Linked DNA regions of Homo sapiens: region 2 is reported to be linked to region 1. The links are microRNA targets in miRTarBase. Many come from high-throughput screens and were not tested one by one. Region 1 holds a microRNA gene; the other region holds the end of a gene's coding sequence.

The links. Region 1 holds the annotated microRNA hsa-miR-762 (GGGGCUGGGGCCGGGGCCGAGC, at 1,425-1,446, opposite strand). A microRNA usually pairs through its seed, bases 2 to 8, with sites in the 3' UTR of a target mRNA and lowers its output. Matches are read on the target gene's strand: a 7mer-m8 pairs with bases 2 to 8, a 7mer-A1 pairs with bases 2 to 7 and ends in A, and an 8mer does both.
Region 2: miRTarBase lists TMEM63C as a target of hsa-miR-762. Seed matches in the 3' UTR shown: 7mer-m8 at 3,090-3,096, 7mer-A1 at 2,142-2,148, 7mer-m8 at 1,451-1,457 and 7mer-A1 at 1,150-1,156.

The regions. Positions count from the first base shown.
Region 1 is chr16:30,891,012-30,895,396 of GRCh38, reverse strand. MIR762 (microRNA 762) reads right to left here and starts at 1,494; the gene lies at 1,412-1,494. It overlaps BCL7C (BAF chromatin remodeling complex subunit BCL7C), which reads left to right and starts at 1,320. Exons shown (of 6, transcript NM_004765.4): 1 at 1,320-1,544; 2 at 2,107-2,185; 3 at 2,449-2,557; 4 at 2,650-2,811. The coding sequence starts at 1,453. It overlaps MIR762HG (MIR762 host gene), which reads right to left. Exons shown (of 3, transcript NR_110942.1): 3 at 177-849. RefSeq lists enhancers at 1-119, 1,863-2,192, 1,731-2,363 and a silencer at 1,003-1,482.
Region 2 is chr14:77,256,559-77,260,250 of GRCh38, reverse strand. TMEM63C (transmembrane protein 63C) reads right to left here. Exons shown (of 24, transcript NM_020431.4): 24 at 756-3,692. The coding sequence ends at 3,525. It overlaps LOC124903351 (a long non-coding RNA gene), which reads right to left and starts at 432. Exons shown (of 2, transcript XR_007064276.1): 1 at 1-432.

The sequences.
Region 1 (4,385 bases):
TTAACCATGCTCCTAACCCCTTATACCCTTAACCTCTGGACATGGTCACGCCCAAATTCACAGACACAACAGCCACACCTTGAAACACACACACACACACAACAGCAGCACAAATTTTGACATGGTCTTATCTGCTGACAAGCCAGCCTCAAATAAAGTCAACAAAGACACACTCATTTTATTTAAGTAATGTACATTTTATTTAAGTCATGTGATGGATTTTCACAGAATACATATGCCCAGGGAACCAGCACCAGATTACACAACAGAACTGGATCAGCTCCCAGAAGCTCTCCCCTCGTCCCCTCCCAACCCTAAGGGCGATCACTATCTTGACTTTGGTGCACTATAAATTAGTTTTGTCTGGTTCTGAACGTAATACACCTGGAACCATCTAGTATGTACTGTTGCATTTGGCTTCTGTCACTCAAGATTTCATCATGCGACTTGTCTATGTTGCTGTGTGTAGCCGGGCATGTCAATCCCGTTGCTGTGTCTATGTGCATGGTAGTGAGTAGGGCATCATTCATTTTCCATTCTGTTGATGGGTTATTTCCAGTTTGGGGCTGTTATGAAAGGGCTCTGAACATTCCCATGCACCCTCTTGATGCTCACACCTACACATTTCTGCTGGGTGTTGACAGCCTAGGAGTGGAACTGCTGGATCACAGAGGTGGCATATGTTCGGCTTCATTAGAAAACTGCCAGTTTTCCAAAATGTCTCTACCAATTTACACTCCCCCAGAAATACAAGAGAGGTCCAGTCGCTCTACTTTCTCGCCTCCACACGGTGCGGTCTTTTTCACTTTAGCCATTCTGGTGGTGGAGACCCACTCGTATTCGCAGCGCCTGGAGCGTAATTGGCACTCAGTTAACAAGACTGTTGAATGAATGGATGACTGAGTAAGTTGGGCGGTGTAGACCAACAGCCTGGCGAGGGCGGACACACGCACGCACTCCACACACAGCGTTTCGCGGACACCCACCGCGGCTCACGCAGCGCAGGACACAGACCCTGTCGCGCACCCCGCGCCCACGTGGTCTGAACACACGGCCTCGGCCCTGCCTCGCGCGTCCGGTCGCAACTCCCGCTCTCCGTCCCCAACTCGCGCGTCCGTCCCCAACTCCCGCTCTCGGCGGCGGGCAGGGGGCGCTGAGCGTCCAGGCGCTCCAAGGGGGCGGGCCCGGGTCGGGGCGGGGCCGGCCGGGCTTCCAGGCCTGGGCTCTGGCCGCCCGCGCCACCGGGCCGCTCCGGGGACAGGCCGGGGCGGGGCGCGGCGGCAGGAAACGGGGCGGGGACTTGCGGAGGCGTTGGGGACGAGAGAGGGCGCGGCCAACTCCAGGGGGGACGGCAGGCCGAGAGCGCGGCGCCCGGGCCTGGCGCGGAGCCTGAGCCCGCCGGACGGGAGGCGGCCCCGCCGCGGGCTCGGCCCCGGCCCCAGCCCCGCCAGCATGGCCGGCCGGACTGTACGGGCCGAGACCCGGAGCCGGGCCAAGGATGACATCAAGAAGGTGATGGCGACCATCGAGAAGGTCCGGAGATGGTGAGCGCTGCTCGGGGGCCAGGGACGGGACACAGCGGGACCACCAGCACCAAAGGCGTCTACGCTGCCCTCGCCAGCTCTGGGCCCCGGGTGTTCGGTGTATCTCCACCCACTAGCTTTGCCCTGGATCCACAGGGCTCTGTCCCCGTTCGCCTGGCTACTCCTGGGGGTCTACAAAGCGTGATCCCCAGCCGTGTCCTCCCAGAGCGGGAGCCCCCTCTTGTGCCCCGCCCCCTAAAGCTTTGACACCCCTCCTGCAGGTGCGCCCCAGGATCTGCAGGGCTCTGATCCCGGGCCAGGCCCATAGCCACGCCCCCCATGTGTGCCCCAGGGGTCCGCAGAGCCAGGGCCCCAAATCATATCCTCTCTCTAGAGGCACCCACCGCCTATGCCCTGGGGTTTGCAGGACTCTCTTCCTCCATGTAACTATGCCCCATTAGCAAAACTGTTGCTATCCTCCTGTGCCTCCTCAACCTCTGCAGGTACCCCCAGATGTGTCCAGCTCCTAGGGGGGTGGGTCTCCCCTCAGGCCTCTCTGACCCAGCCCCCCACCCTCCCACAGGGAGAAGCGATGGGTGACTGTGGGCGACACTTCCCTTCGTATCTTCAAGTGGGTGCCAGTGGTGGATCCCCAGGAGGAGGTGAGCAACCCCCATTCCCACAAGGCCCTGCATCTGTGCAACCTCAGGCAAGTTCCTCCCCACGCTGACCTCTACCTCCAGCTCCCCGAGACCTCAGATGCAGCAGGACAGACGGGAACCATCATTAGCAGCTCCTCCCCTTTTGCCCTCTTTTCTGCTCCACACCCCCTGAGTTTGAGCCCTTTTGCTTCTCAGTGCCTCAGTTTCCTTAGGTGTATGGTGGGGCTTTCCAAGAGCTCTGACCCTAATCCTCTAACCCCCAGGAGCGAAGGCGGGCAGGTGGCGGGGCAGAGAGATCCCGTGGCCGGGAACGTCGGGGCAGGGGCGCCAGTCCCCGAGGGGGTGGCCCTCTCATCCTGCTGGATCTTAATGGTAGGTAGGGATCCTGAAACGCGGGGGGCTGTGGGGACTGAAGGAGTGTACTAGGGATCTCAGGCCAACCATCTCGGCTCTTGCTCCCGCAGATGAGAACAGCAACCAGAGTTTCCATTCGGAAGGTTCCCTGCAAAAGGGCACAGAGCCCAGTCCTGGGGGCACCCCCCAGCCCAGCCGCCCTGTGTCACCTGCCGGACCCCCAGAAGGGGTCCCTGAGGAGGCTCAGCCCCCACGGCTGGGCCAAGAGAGAGGTAGGACCAGGTACCTCCCAGGAGCTCTCTCCTCTAAGTCCTGTCTTCTCCAGAGTCTAACCTACCAGCTCATCCCTATACCTGCTCCCCGTCTTGTGCACCCTCCTCAAGGCGCCTTCCGACTCCTGCAGAATCTCCCTGTAGCTACAGTCTCATTCCTCTGGTCTCTTAGAATCTATACAGACATATCACTGTCTGAGATTTTCATGTAAATTAATTTTTTACTAGTTTATCTTTCTCCTCACTCTCATGTCAGTTTCCTGAATGTTGGGCCCATATTGATCCTTTTTTTTTTTTTTTTTTTTTTTTTTTTTTGAGAAAGGGTCTCGCTCTGTCACCCAGGCTGGAGTAGTATAGTGGTGTGATCATAGCTCACTGCAGCCTTGAACTTCCTGGGCTCAAGCGATCCTCCCGCCTCAGCCTCCCAAGTAGCTGGGACCACAGGCATATGCCACCACACCTGGCTAATTTTTGTATTTTTTGTAGAGATAAGGTTTCACCATGTTGCCCAGGCTGGTCTCAAACTCACTTGCTCAAGCAGTCCTCCACCTTCAGCCTCCCAAAGTGCTGGGATTACGGGTGTGAGCCATCACACCCACACCCGGCCCTCCCCCCCCTTTTTTTTAGAGACAAGGTCTCTGTCACCCACGCTGGAGTACTCTGGTGCAATCATAGCTCACTGCAGCCTCAAACTCCTGGGCTCAAGGGATCCTCTGGCCCCAGCCTCCCAAATAGCTGGGACTCAGGTGTGTGCCACCATGCCCAGCCAATTCTTAAATTTTTTGTAGAGGTAGGGTCTCGCTATGTTGCCAAGGTTGGTTTTGAACTCGTGGCCTGAAATGATCCTCCTGTCTCAGCCTCCCAAGGTGCTGGGATTATAGGCGTGAGTCACTGTGCCTGGCCCTATGTGATCTTGTTCACTACTGTATCCTCAGAATAATATGGGACACATAGTAGGTGCTCAGTAAATATCTGTTGAGTGAATAAATAATAGTGATAGTCATAGGGGTGATTAACAATAATAGGAATAACAACAGCTAGTATTTATTGAGCTCTTACTGTGTGCTAGGTGCCCTGGTAAACACTTTACGTGGTTGGGTTTTTTTCTTTTCTCTTTTTCTTTTCTTTGAGAGAGTTTCGCTCTTGCCAAGGCTGGAGTGCGACGGCACAATCTTGGCTCACTGCAACCTTCACCTCCTGGGTTCAGGCAATTCTCCTGCCTCAGCCTCCTGGGTAGCTGGGAATATAGGCATGAACCACCATGCTCGGCTGGTTTTGTATTTTTAGTAGAGTTGGGGTTTCGCCATGTTGGCCAGGCTGGTCTCAAACGCCTGACCTCAGGTGATCTGCCCGCCTTGGCCTCCCAAAGTGCTGGGATTACGAGCCACCACGCCCAGCCTTTTTTTTTTTTTTTTTTGAGATGAAGTCTTGCTCTGTTGCCCAGGCTGGAGAGCAGTGGTACGATCTTGGCTCACTGCAAACTCTGCCTCCCAGGTTCAAGCGATTCTTCTGCCTCAGCCTCCCATGTAGCTGGGATTACAGGCATGCCACCATGCCCGGCTGATTTTTGTTTT
Region 2 (3,692 bases), not on the chromosome of region 1:
CCCACACCTTGGTAGACTTTGAGTCAGTGGCCACTGATGGACCGTAGAAGTTTGCGGAGAGGACCCAGCGAGGATGATGCAGGAAAGAGTCCTTAGGCAGCCACCCTGAGACTGTCATCCTCTGTCCCCATAGGGAGCACTGCGGGAGGAAGTCTCCCCCTACTCAACACACCCACAAGATTCCCATCTTCTGCCCTCAAATCTGCTCTGCTCAGTCACGAAGCAGAACAGTCCGCTTCATGTCCTCCCAGCCCTACTGTCTGGATGAGGTGACCAGCCTGGGTCATGCAGCTGCTGGAGGAAGGGACAGAACCAGTCTCCTGACCCTGAGATGTGTCCGCCAGGGCAGGGAACTGTTGTCTCCTTGCCACAGTTATAACAGCCTTTGCTAACGGGTGTTTCTTATCCCACCTGGCTGCCCCACACACTTCCCTCGTGCCAACCTCTCCTCCACCCAACCTCTCCTCCACCTCCCCCATCCCCCAAGTCCCCCACCCTCATCCTCTTGCAGACCTGAGCCCTGTCTGCCGCTCTTCCTGGGGCCTCACCTGAAATCTGTGTGTTTTGAAGTCTGGCCACTAGCCTAGCCCAGTGGCCTGCTCATGGGGCTCAGCACTCACCAGAGACTTCTGCTGCTCCTCGGGGCTGCCCTGCTGGCTTCCTGGGTAGCTCAAGGACCAGAAAGTTCTCTCCACTGCACAGCGGAGCAAGGCCAGGCTGGCCCAGATGCACAGGCAGAGAGGCAGGGGCCAGGAGAGGTTGGGAGGACTTGTTTATTCAAGGCACGGTCATAGCATTAACAAGAAGGTTCAGCATTCTGGCACATTCCTTTTGTGGTGGTGGCCAAGGTTAGCCCACACCCCCTCCCCCCCGACCGGGGGCCCCAGAGGACGCAACGCTGCTGATAGGCACTTTGCTTCCAGGGGCAGTGGAGGGTCAGGCAGGTGGGCATGGGGCCACTGGAGGCCTGAGGAGGGCCCCTCCTGGAGGCTCTAGGCAATACCGGTTCCTGGGCGGCAGCTCCTTCCAGAAAGGATTAAGTCAGGAGGTGATTTGGTGGATGGAGTGGGGTGGGGCGGCTGGGAAGTGGCTGGCAGAGGAGTGGGATGGCAGTAGGTGGGGGGAGGGGGGCAATGGGTGAGGCAGGTGTGGGCTGAGGCAGGAGGTGCCTGAGAGGGCCTGGATGTGGTGGCGGGGGGAGGCTAAAAGATGCCCCCTGCTCCACCATCCTGTAGTGACCATGGGAGGTCCAGATGGAGCCAACTGCCATGAGGCTTTGCTGGTTCCCCTAAGAGTGGACTATGGAACCTTCTCCACATGCTCACCACCTTCTCTCAGAGCCAGGCTACACTGGACCCAGGTTCAGAGGGAGAAGCCCCCAGTCATCCCGCCACATTGTCTGCCAGGACTTTTCCCATATGTGGCTTCCACAGTCCGGCAGGGGCTGCAGGGGCTGGGGGCAGGGGCCAGGGAGCTGTGTCCAGCAAAGAAGAGACCCCAGGCCAGCTTCTGGTGTGACCCCCCACACCCCATACACCAAATACACATGATGGGGTCGGGCAGGGCCTGGAGCTGGCCACCTCCCCATCATGTGCCAAGCTCCTGCTGGGCCTGACCGCTATGCTGTAACAGCGTACTTTCCCCTTGTTGGTTGGTGAAATTCCAGTGGGGAGGGGGCCTGTGGGACCTGGGTGTGTAGGGGCCAGGCTAGGACCATTTCCCCTTTATTCCTAGCTGGACAAGGAATGGGAAAGACAGCCTCTCTCCAGCCAACCCAAGCTCTCTGGAAAGACACCCTCATGCCAAAATGTGGGCCATGCCCTGGGGGTATAGCAGTTTCTGCCCATTGAGCACAATTTCTCACCTGCGGTGAAGCTTGGAGCTTCTGGGGCTAGGATGGGGCAAAGGTGGGGCAGGGACAAGGTCTAGGTGATCTGAGTTCAGGGCAGCCATGTGCCTGGGGCCTGGTGCAGGTGCTCAGGTGAGGTGAGCCGGGGGCCGGCCTTCAGTAGGTTGGTGGCAGGGACCCAGACCTTTGGGGGAGGGGGCTGAAGAGGGCCCTGGAGCACACAGACCCCATTCAGCTTGGCTTGTTCTGGTTCATTGAGGCCCCCACTGGCCCTTCTCATGTCCTCCCTGGCTGGGCTGCACGGTGGTCCTGATGAGAGCCCATCCCAGAGGCAGAAGCCGGTTCCCCCCGGCTGTGGCAAAGGTGCTGAGTGTCACCATCACTGTTCGGAATTCAGCTCCCCCAGGTCTCTGGTAGTGGCAGCCCTGGGAGGACAGCCTTGCTTCTCCAGAAAGGGCTTCTCCCTGGAGCACGTGGCCTTCCCCTCCACCACACCCCTGGCAGGCCTGGGGCGACATCACGGTTGAAGCATCTGCAATGTCTGGACCAGGCCCACACTGGAGGCCGCTTGGGTGGTCTTCAAGGCAGGGTGCAGGGGCAGCCCCGAGAAGGGAGGAAGGGTCCTACTTGGGACGCAGGTGATGGTCAGTCCTTAAGTTTGAAGCATGGGGTTCTTACCCTAACGTACTGCCCATCTTGGCCAAGCTGGGGGCCCAGGCACTCAGTTGGGTAGGAGGCAGGAGACGCTTTTAAGTGGCCACATCTTTGGCTTCGGGGGTCTTCTCTTTAGGCCCTGGGGCTTGGGGAGGTATAGCTGGTTTCCCACCACACAGAGTTTTGGGGAGAAGACCCCCCTTCCATGAATTCGGCTTCTGTCGTCTCACCCCACTTTGTGTTACCCAGCAAGGACTAACCAAGGTTTCCTTCTGAAAAATGCACACGAGTCTCATTTGATGAGCCCTGAGTGATCACGCTCTAGCTACCCTTGTAAGAATAGAAAGAAGGGCCTCTGCCCTGCTGCTCCTGGGGACATCTGATGAGGGCAGAGGAGCAGGAAGGGGCTGAGTTACCTCTTCTCAGGTCTACGCTTTCAGTTGGCTCTTGCTCTGGTGGGTGCAGAAACTTTCTCTTTACAGATCCCCATGCAGGGAACCCTGTGATGAGGTGGTCCTCCGTGTCCTGTCAATGTGCCCCGTGCACATACCTTTGCCTCCTCAGACTGCAGGGGAGGAATGGGCCGGGGCTGGGAGGAGGAGCAGCAGCAGAAGCTCCTTGGAAGGGCAGCTGATGCAGAGTGGTGATGACCCCACAGAGCCTTCGGCAGCCTCCTTCTGTCTCCTCCCTTAGGAACACCTTCTCCATCTTGGTCCCAGGAAGGGACCCCAGCGTTCAGTCTCTGTGCCGGGGCTCCAGCCACCTCTCTCAAGACATGTGCTTGCCTGTATCCTCCCATCCCTTCCCAGGCTCCTTCAGCACTGCCGAGCACCCCCAGTTCCAGCCGGGCAGCAGGTCAGGACCCCCGTATGGCCCATGGCTGGGGTGGTGGATGTCTCCACTGTGGGCTTCTCAAAGTCTGCAGGAGGTAGTGGGGAGGTCCAGGCCACCCTCCTGCCTCCCCTTGCCAGGCCCTCCCCTGACCCCTCAACAAGTCGCCAGTGGAGGCCTCAGGTCCCGGTCAGTGGTACTGGTTCTGGCCCTCCAGTTCCAGCCCTTCCTGGAACTGGGCCGAGTCTAGCTCCCTCGCAAAGCCCCTCAGACCACTCTCTTCTTCTCCCTCTTCCGGCTGGTTGTTCATGGTGCCATAGGTGTGCCTGGCTGGGGAGGAGGCGGGGGTCAGATTCAA